Regions from separate parts of the Homo sapiens genome. Here all the other regions are linked to region 2. The links come from fine-mapping of genetic effects on gene expression. A gene starts in region 2. Each other region holds a variant in brackets. All regions are shown on one strand. Distances are between the middles of the regions.

Region 1 (2,765 bases), 380 kb after region 2:
GGTGTGTTTGCCATACAGGGTCATTCTCAGGGTAAGCTTAAGTTATTGCTGTCAGGTGTTCTTACCATACACCTCTGGATCTGCCCCACCTCTGTTGCTAACCACAAGGACTACAACTAGAGTTAAGTCATGGGCCGGGCCACAGTGGCTCATGCCCATAATCCCAGAGCTTTGGGAGGCAGAGGCAGGAGAATTGCTTGAGGCCAGGGGTTTGAGACCAGCCTGCACAACATAATGAGACCTTCATCTCTGCAAAAAAAATAATAAATAAATAAAATAAAATAAAATTACCTGAGCATGGTGATGCACCTCTGTAGCCCTAACTACTTGAGAGGCTGAGGTGGAAGGATCCCTTGAGCCGTGGAGTTTGAGGCTGCAGTGAGCTATTATTGCACCACTGCACTCCAGCCTGTGTGACAGAGAAAGACCTGATCTCTTTAAAAACAAACAAACAAAAAACCCAGAAATTTATTCTCACACGGTTCTGTTGGTCAGAAATCTGAAATCATTTTCACTCAGCCAAAATTAAGGTGTCAGGCCAAGGTCATATGTAATGCGTGTGATTACATTTAGGGCCCACCCAGGATAATCTCCTCACTGCAAGATCCTTAACTTAATTACACCTGCAAAGACACTGTTTCCATATAAAATAACATTTACAGGTTTCAAGGATTGGGATCTAACATCTTTAGCGGCTACTAGTCAACCTACTACAGGGGCAAATCTGGGTTTTCTCTCTTGTCTCAACAAGGAAGTGTGGTCTTTGGAAAGGAGTAAGGAGACAGAGACTTTGTTTGCACAGTGACACAATGAAGAAGTTGTGTTTTGGGTGGTAGGTATTTACTTATTTATTTATTTAGAAATAGAGTTTCACAGCCTGGCGCGGTGGTTCACGCCTGTAATCCCAGCACTTTGGGAGGCCAACGTGGGTGGATCAGGAGGTCAGGAAATTGAGACCATCCTGGTTAACACGGTGAAACCCTATCTCTACTAAAAATGCAAAAAATTAGCCGGGT[G/T]TGGTGGCGGGTGCCTGTAGTCCCAGCTACTCGGAAGGCTGAGGCAGGAGAATGGTGTGAACCTGGGAGGCGGCGCTTGCAGTGAGCCGAGATGGTGCCACTGCACTCCAGCCTGGGTGACAGAGCGAGACTCCGTCTCAAAACAAAACAAAAAAACGAAATGGAGTTTCACTCTTTCACCCAGGCTGGAGTGAAGTCATGCCATCTCAGCTCACTGCAACTTCTGCCTCCTGGGTTCAAGTGATTCTTATGCCTCAGCCTCCCAAGTAGCTGGGATTACAAGTATGCACCACCATGCCTGGCTAATTTTTGTATTTTTAGTAGGGACGGGGTTTCTCTATGTTGGCCAGGCTGGTCTTGAACTTCTGACCTCAGGTGATCTGCCCGCCTCAGCCTCCCAAAGTGCTGGGATTACAGGCGTGAGCCACCACACCCGACCAGTAGTTAATATTTTAAAAGAAGATTTGGTTTGTCATGTGATGTTTCATTCTGCAGGAGCTGAAGGACGCAAGAGTCTCCAAATGATGTGTAGCTTTTCAAAGATCTCGTGCTTCCTCTTCCATGATGAGGGAGTTCTACAAGGAGGTAGAAGTTTAAAGAGACCAAGAAAATGGTTAGGGAGAAGAGGGAGGGAGACCAAAGAGAGGCAGAGAGAGAGAAAATGCAATTGGTCAAATGTTTCCTGGGACTGATCTGCATTCACACACCCTCCCAGTTGATCTAGGCATTGTGTTTATTCTTCCCAGGTGATGGAGAGGTGTTCCTGCGGGTGACTGTAATTACAGGCTATAGGAGGTGGGGTACAGATAGTCAGAGATTGTTAAAATCAGCTCTGTCCATTCAGCAGAGAGGATAGTTCACACATGCTAATATTTCATGCACCAGAGACTTCACTAGATGCTGGTGCTTAAGCTAGGCTGTGTAGGCTGAGAAGTATTCAGACAAGTTATGAGAAGAGTGTTCAGGCAGGGCCAGTGGCAGAGGTAAGGAAAATCAGCCAGGCGCGGTGGCTCACACCTGTAATCACAACACTTTGGGAGGCCTGAGGTCAGGAGTTCGAGACCAGCCTGGCCAACATGGCAAAACCGTCTTTACTAAAAATACAAAAATTAGCCAGGCACCGTGGGGGGGCGCCTGTAATCCCAGCTACTTGGGAGGCTGAGGCAGGGGAATTGCTTGAGCCCTGGAGGCAGAGGTTGCAGTGAGCTGAGAACACACCACTGCACTCCAGCCTGGGCTACAGAGTGAGACTCCGTTTCAAAAAAGAAGTAAGGAATCTCAGAGGTACTAGGACTCTTGGAGAAAGACATTTCTAGAGCATAGCACTAGTGGGGGGCAGTGGATTAATCTACCCTTTCAGCCTGATAATCTAGCCCCAAGCACTATTAGACACATTACTTAAGGAAGCAGTTAATAACTTCACACAGCATTTCAACTTGGTGGGTCAGTCCTAAGTGTGAATTTTGTTTTTCTTCACTGACTCTAACACAGTTATTGTCTTTTTGGTCCAATATTATCAAATTTCATTACCTTGTTAATCGCCAGATTTTTTTTTTCATTTTTAAATAAGTGAAGCATATGTGGAATTCTAAAGAACTCAGCTCATTTATTTCCTTTGAAAAATCTTATTCCTGCACCAATAAACATCATTATAATGCACCCAGCCAATTTCATTTCAGAACAAGTTGGTACATTACTCAAGTATTGATCACTTGCTTTGTCATCTTATCAGTTAATTATTGTTATGGT
Region 2 (2,765 bases):
TGTAAACAAAGCAATTAATCATGACTTTCTAAAAAATTTTCCTTTAATGACCCTGATTGTCTTTCATTCATAGTACCTTTTCGGGAAAACTTAAAGGAGATTTAAGAAACCATTCCTATATTATTTATACCTTTTTTTTCCTTTGACTTTTCTTTGAGGAGTGGTTATGCCTCAAAGAAGAAAATATATGGAATGTATCAGATCAGGACTAATTATTTGGACTTCTAATGCAAACACCGCCTCTGCCCTCTATAGTGGAGAAAAGACCCACCATAATCCTTATGGATAGTTTCAACATAAAAATTATACACAGTTGTGTATACATTTCTACATATGGAAATGGTATAGCAAAAAGTGTATTCTGTTCTATGCTATGTTATATTATTTCTACTTTGACTTTCCGATTATCAACCAAACATGCTTAACTGTTTTGACACAGGGAGCACTAGTATGCTTCAGTCTCAGATCCTCCTATCTTTCCTGGCAGGAAAGTCAGTATCTCAAAACTGCCTTAGTAATCTTTAAACAGCTTGGATAAGAGTAATTCCCAGATTGTAGCTTCAGTCCTCAACCCAATGGCCTAATGTCCTATCACTGTTCCCAATACTTCTTTTCTCGCTAAACTGCCTACAATGCAAAAAGGCAGGGTCACCCACTGTCCTTTTTCCCTTCGAGGCAGTCTTGTAGAGATTCAATGTCAAGTTTCCTGATCTGCCCTGGGTTCCTAGGTTGACTGTTCTCACTGCAGCTAACATCCCCTACTCGGTGAGCTTGTGTCTCCTTGAGCTGCTAACCTGATGAGGACTCTCTGCTGCACACTCTTTCATGATCTCAGGTCCTTCAGGAGATCGTCATGCCCTTACCCCCACTCCAATCCTATCACACCTGTCATTCCCCACTCTTCCCGGCTCTATACTCTACAATTATTTTTCCCAACTCCTGCTCATAGTCAGCCCTTCATACTTCATTCATTCAACTAACATTTACCGAGTCCTGCTTTGTACTAATCCTTGGTCATTCAGTAATGTATAAAACGTGATTCTTGCCCACAATCACACAACAAATGATATAATCCCTTTGCCAATTTATGTTTCTTCCTGTCCCTGTGGACCTCGAAAGCTACACACACACATACATTTCACTTCGTTATCAAAACCAATCCCATCATTGTTTGTTCTTCTCCTCTACAGTCATCCTACCGGTAACCTTCATCTCATTAATCGCCTGTCTGTGGCCCCTACCCCAGCCCCTAATTCCTTTCTATTCTCTGGAGGGCCAATTGCCCTTCCTTTTAACCTTCTGGTTCCCTGGCTACTTCCTTCTTACGTCCCTTTTCTTGTTTATCCAGCGGGGGTGCGGGTCTCCCTAAAATTCCTTACACCCTGCTCTCCTATTACGCTTTCCTCAATCTTTGATCGCTCAGGTTACCTCTTTTTTTGCGCCCACGGCTGCCCCCAGACCCTTGGCCTTTTCGTTGTTTCATGATGAGCCCGAGCTCTTCTTCACCAGCTCAACTCCGTCTCCAGCACCTAAGCAGTATCCTCCCGCCATCCCTCCCCACGGCGCCTGCGTTCCCCGGCAACCGGCGCCGCTGGGCAGCCTGGGAGGCAGGAAAAAGCGACTCTTCCTCTAACAGTCTCCGGAAAACGGTGCGAAGAGAAGGCGCCAAGACGCCTTCCCTCCAATACACTACAATACCCAGGACGCTTTGCTACAATACCTCTCCGGGGTTGGCTGGGGGGCGCCTCCAGCTGCGCAAGCGCATAGGGATGCGCCCTTTGTGGACTCCATTGCGCAGGGTGCATTGCCCTGAAGAGCGCTCCTCCTTCCGGTGAAAGTCGTCGGGTTCCCAGCCGGGAGTCTGCGGAGTTCTCATACTCTGTTACCCAGCTTCCTTTGTATGAGTGCTGTTGCGCACTTCCGGTGGAAGCGCTGAAGCGAGTGGGTGGAGTTTACGGAGCCGGTGGGCGGTAGGCGGTGCTACGGGTAGCTGGGTGCTGTCCAAAGGCGACAGGGCGTCGTTAGGGGAGCGAGTCGTGACCGGTTGGGCCACACTCAACGTGGGACGAAGCTTCGCCTACTGTTTGACTACGTGCGTGCAGCCTCCCCTCGATGTCGGCCCTCGAAAAGAGCATGCACCTCGGCCGCCTTCCCTCTCGCCCACCTCTACCCGGCAGCGGGGGCAGTCAGAGCGGAGCCAAGATGCGAATGGGGTACGTGACCCATACCCCTTCTCCCTATGGGCCAGGCCCCAGCCGTTGGAGAATGGTATCTCTGGGCGTTCATAGAGGCACGGGAAAGGAGTCTACTGATAGGAGAAAATGTTGGCGGCCTGGAGATATTTAGATGGAGTAGAAGGCAGATTGGGGTACTAGGGGAGGCGCCAAGTCAATAGAAATTGGAGGAAAAATAACGTTGTTGAAGGGAGAGGGGAATGAGGCAAAGGTTGGGGAAGCTGAGAGACTAACATAAGGGATCTGAGAATCACTTCCACAATAAAGGAGGCTTAGAAAAGGGAGTAGAACGGTGACAAAGGTGGAGGAGAATCGGCCAGGGAAGGTGGAGGGAAGTGGGGAATGACTGAGAGAAAAGTTGAGGGGAATTGGGCCAACAACTAAGGAAAGGTTTGGGAGGAGTAGATATTATCAGAGTTCTAATATCTGCACTGTGAGAACTAGATACTAGAAAAGCTGAGGGGGGTAGAAAACACTCGAGACAGGGCTGGAGAAGGAAAGAGGAGAACTAGGAAGCAGACGATTCTAGAG
Region 3 (2,765 bases), 120 kb before region 2:
TTTGGGGTTTGAATGATCCCATCACCCAGGTACTAAGCATATTACCTAACAGTCAGTTTTTCAACTTTTGTCCTCCTCCCTTTCTCCTTCCTTTAGTAGTCCCTAGTTTCTTTTGTTGACTTTTTTATGTCTATGAATACCCAATGCTTAGCTGCCACTTATAAGAGAGAACATGTGGTATTTGGTTTTCTGTTCTTGTGTTAATTCGCTTAGGATAATGGCCTCCAGCTGCATCCACGTTGCTGCAAAGAACATGATTTTGTTCTTTTTTTTTTTTAATGGCTGTGAGAGTTTTTAATTTTGATGAATCTAATTTTTTTCTTTTGTTATTTGTGCTTTTGGTGTCATTTCCTAAGGAATCATTGTCTAATCCAAGCTCATGAAGATTTACTCCTCTGCTTCCTAGGAAGAGTTTTATAGTTTTAGTTTTTACATTTAGATATGTGACCCATTTGAAGTTAATTTTTGTGTATGGTTTGAGGAAGGGGTCCAACTTCAATCACTTGCATGTGGATACCTAGTTGTTCCAGCACCATTTATAGAAAAGACTAGTCTTTCCTCATTAGTCTTGGCATCCTTGTTGAAAATTAGTTGACCACAGACACATGGGTTTATTTTGAGATTATCAATTCAATTCCACTGATTTATATTTCTATCCTCATTCCAGTACTGTTTTGCTTACAGTAGCATTGTAGTAAGCTTTGGAATTAGGGACTCTGTTCTTTTTCAAGGTTGTTTTGCCTATTCCATGTGCCTTGAATTTCCATACTAATTTTAAGATCAGCTTGTCCATTTCCACAAAGCCAGCAGGAATTTTGATAGGGATTGTGTTGAATCTGTAGATCAACGTGGAGAATATTGCCATCGTAAAAATATTAAGTCTGTTAATCCATAGATATGGGATGTCTTTGATTTTATTTAGACCTTTTTCAATTTTCTTTTTTCTTTCCTTTTTTTTTTGGCAGACAGGGTCTTACTCTGTTGCCTAGGCTGGAGTGCAATGGCATGAACATGGCTCACTGTAGCCTCGACCTCCTGGGCTCAAGCAATTCTCCTGCTTCAGTCTCCCGAGTAGCTGGGACTGCAGGCATGCACCACTATGCCTGGCTAATTTTTTTGATTTTTTGTAGAGATAGGGTTTCACTTTGTTGCCCAGGCTGGTCTCGAACTCCTGAGCTCAAGCAATCCTCTCACCTTGGTCTCCCAAAGTGCTGGAATTACAGGCATGAGAGACCACGCCCAGCCTCAATTTCATTTTTGGTTATTCATTGTTGGTATATAGAAATACAATTGATTTTGCTTATTATGTTTTAAAAGTTTCTGTTTCAATTTCTAATATGGTAAAAATTGATAGATATAACCCACATAAACCCGTTTGGGTCATCACTAATTTTTAATAGTATAAAAGGGTTTTGAAGTGAAAATGTTTAAGAACCACTGCTTTATTAATGTGTAACTGACATAAAATAAACTTTACATATTTAAAGAATACAATTTGATGAATTTTAACACATGTATACATCCAAATAAACCATTACCATGAAATAATGAATATATCTACCATCTCCAAAAGTTTCTTCTTGTCTTTTGCAATTCCTTCCTCCTTTCCTCCTTATCCACCCTGCCTTGTCCCTAGGCAACCA[C/A]TGATTTGCTTTCTGTCACTATAGGTTAGGATGCATTTTCTAGGATTTTATATAAATGGAATCATATACAAGGTACTTTTTATTATTTTAAGAGACAGGTTCTCACTCTGTCACTCAGGCTGAAGTGCAGTGGTGTGATCATAGCTCACTGCACCCTTAAGTACCTGGGCTCAAGTGAGCCTCCTGCCTCAACCTCCTGAGTAGCTAGGACTACAGGCAGGCAAATTTTTAATTTTTTTGTGGAGATGGGGTCTCACTATGTTGTCCAGGATCATCTTGAACTCCTGGCCTCAAGCGATCCTCCCATCTCAGCCTCCTAAAGCACTGAGATTAAAGGCCTGAGTCACCATGGCTGGCCCAATGTACTCTTTTTCGTCTAGCTTCTCTTCCTCAGCATAATTATTTTTATATTCATTTTGTTGTCTATCAGTAATGCATTTCTTCTTGTTTTTGAGTAGTATTAATATTTCATTGTATGGATATACGACAATTTTGTTATTTGTTCACCTCTTTGTTGATGGACACCTGAGTTGTTTATAGTTTTTGGTTATTACAAATAAAGCACAAAGACCAGAAAGTTTGGAAACTGCTGTTCTACGCATTTCACAAGTATTATTAGTAATAAAACCTCTCTCTTAAGGCTGCTGTGAAAACCCAGTGAGCTAATGTATATAAAGTCCATATAAAAGTGAGTTATTTCTATTCTCATTTACTCTTTGTAACAGCCCTTGAGGTACTATATTATTTTCATCCTACAAATTAGAAAGCTAAAGCTCAGAAAACTAAAGTAATTAGCCTCAGGTCACATGTAACTAGTAAGTGGTAAAGCCAGGATAGGATTCCAGATCTGTCTGACCTCACAGCCCACTTTACCACCCTGTCCCTTGAGCAGGGCAGGGTCAGGAAGAGCTGGATCTCTGTTAAGATGGTTAGAGAGTGAATTATAGCCTAGCCTTAAATGGCTGTCTGTATATAATATGACACTTCGATGTGGCCCTTCTGAAGTGGTAACAGGGACATCTTTATGTGGACAAAAGGCAAGCCATTAACCTTTTAGCTTTTAAAATTACTAAAGGGTGGGCATTAGAGATATCCTCATCCTACCCATGTGTCCCACTGTGG

Which allele goes with the higher level. Alleles are on the strand shown, and positions count from the first base shown. SD is a standard deviation of normalised expression in the study named. Not every link is listed here.
With allele G in place of T in region 1, the expression in lung of the gene that starts at base 1,693 in region 2 is lower (small effect, 0.37 SD a copy in GTEx).

What was found. PIP is the estimated chance that this variant, and not a neighbour inherited with it, causes the effect.
Region 1: its variant is fine-mapped to the expression of C2CD3 in lung (GTEx, PIP 0.93).
Region 3: its variant is fine-mapped to the expression of C2CD3 in whole blood (TOPMed, PIP above 0.99).

The regions. Positions count from the first base shown.
Region 1 is chr11:74,546,912-74,549,676 of GRCh38, forward strand. No RefSeq gene overlaps it. Among named protein-coding and RNA genes, the nearest start is that of POLD3, 44 kb to the right of the region's middle. The variant G/T (reference allele first, on the strand shown) is at 1,017.
Region 2 is chr11:74,169,310-74,172,074 of GRCh38, forward strand. C2CD3 (C2 domain containing 3 centriole elongation regulator) reads right to left here and starts at 1,693. Exons shown (of 33, transcript NM_001286577.2): 1 at 1,429-1,693. The coding sequence starts at 1,483. It overlaps PPME1 (protein phosphatase methylesterase 1), which reads left to right and starts at 1,980. Exons shown (of 14, transcript NM_016147.3): 1 at 1,980-2,213. The coding sequence starts at 2,113. RefSeq lists enhancers at 928-1,851, 1,625-2,074, 1,852-2,765.
Region 3 is chr11:74,044,628-74,047,392 of GRCh38, forward strand. All of the region lies in intron 28 of C2CD3 (C2 domain containing 3 centriole elongation regulator), which reads right to left. Among named protein-coding and RNA genes, the nearest start is that of UCP3, 37 kb to the left of the region's middle. The variant C/A (reference allele first, on the strand shown) is at 1,644.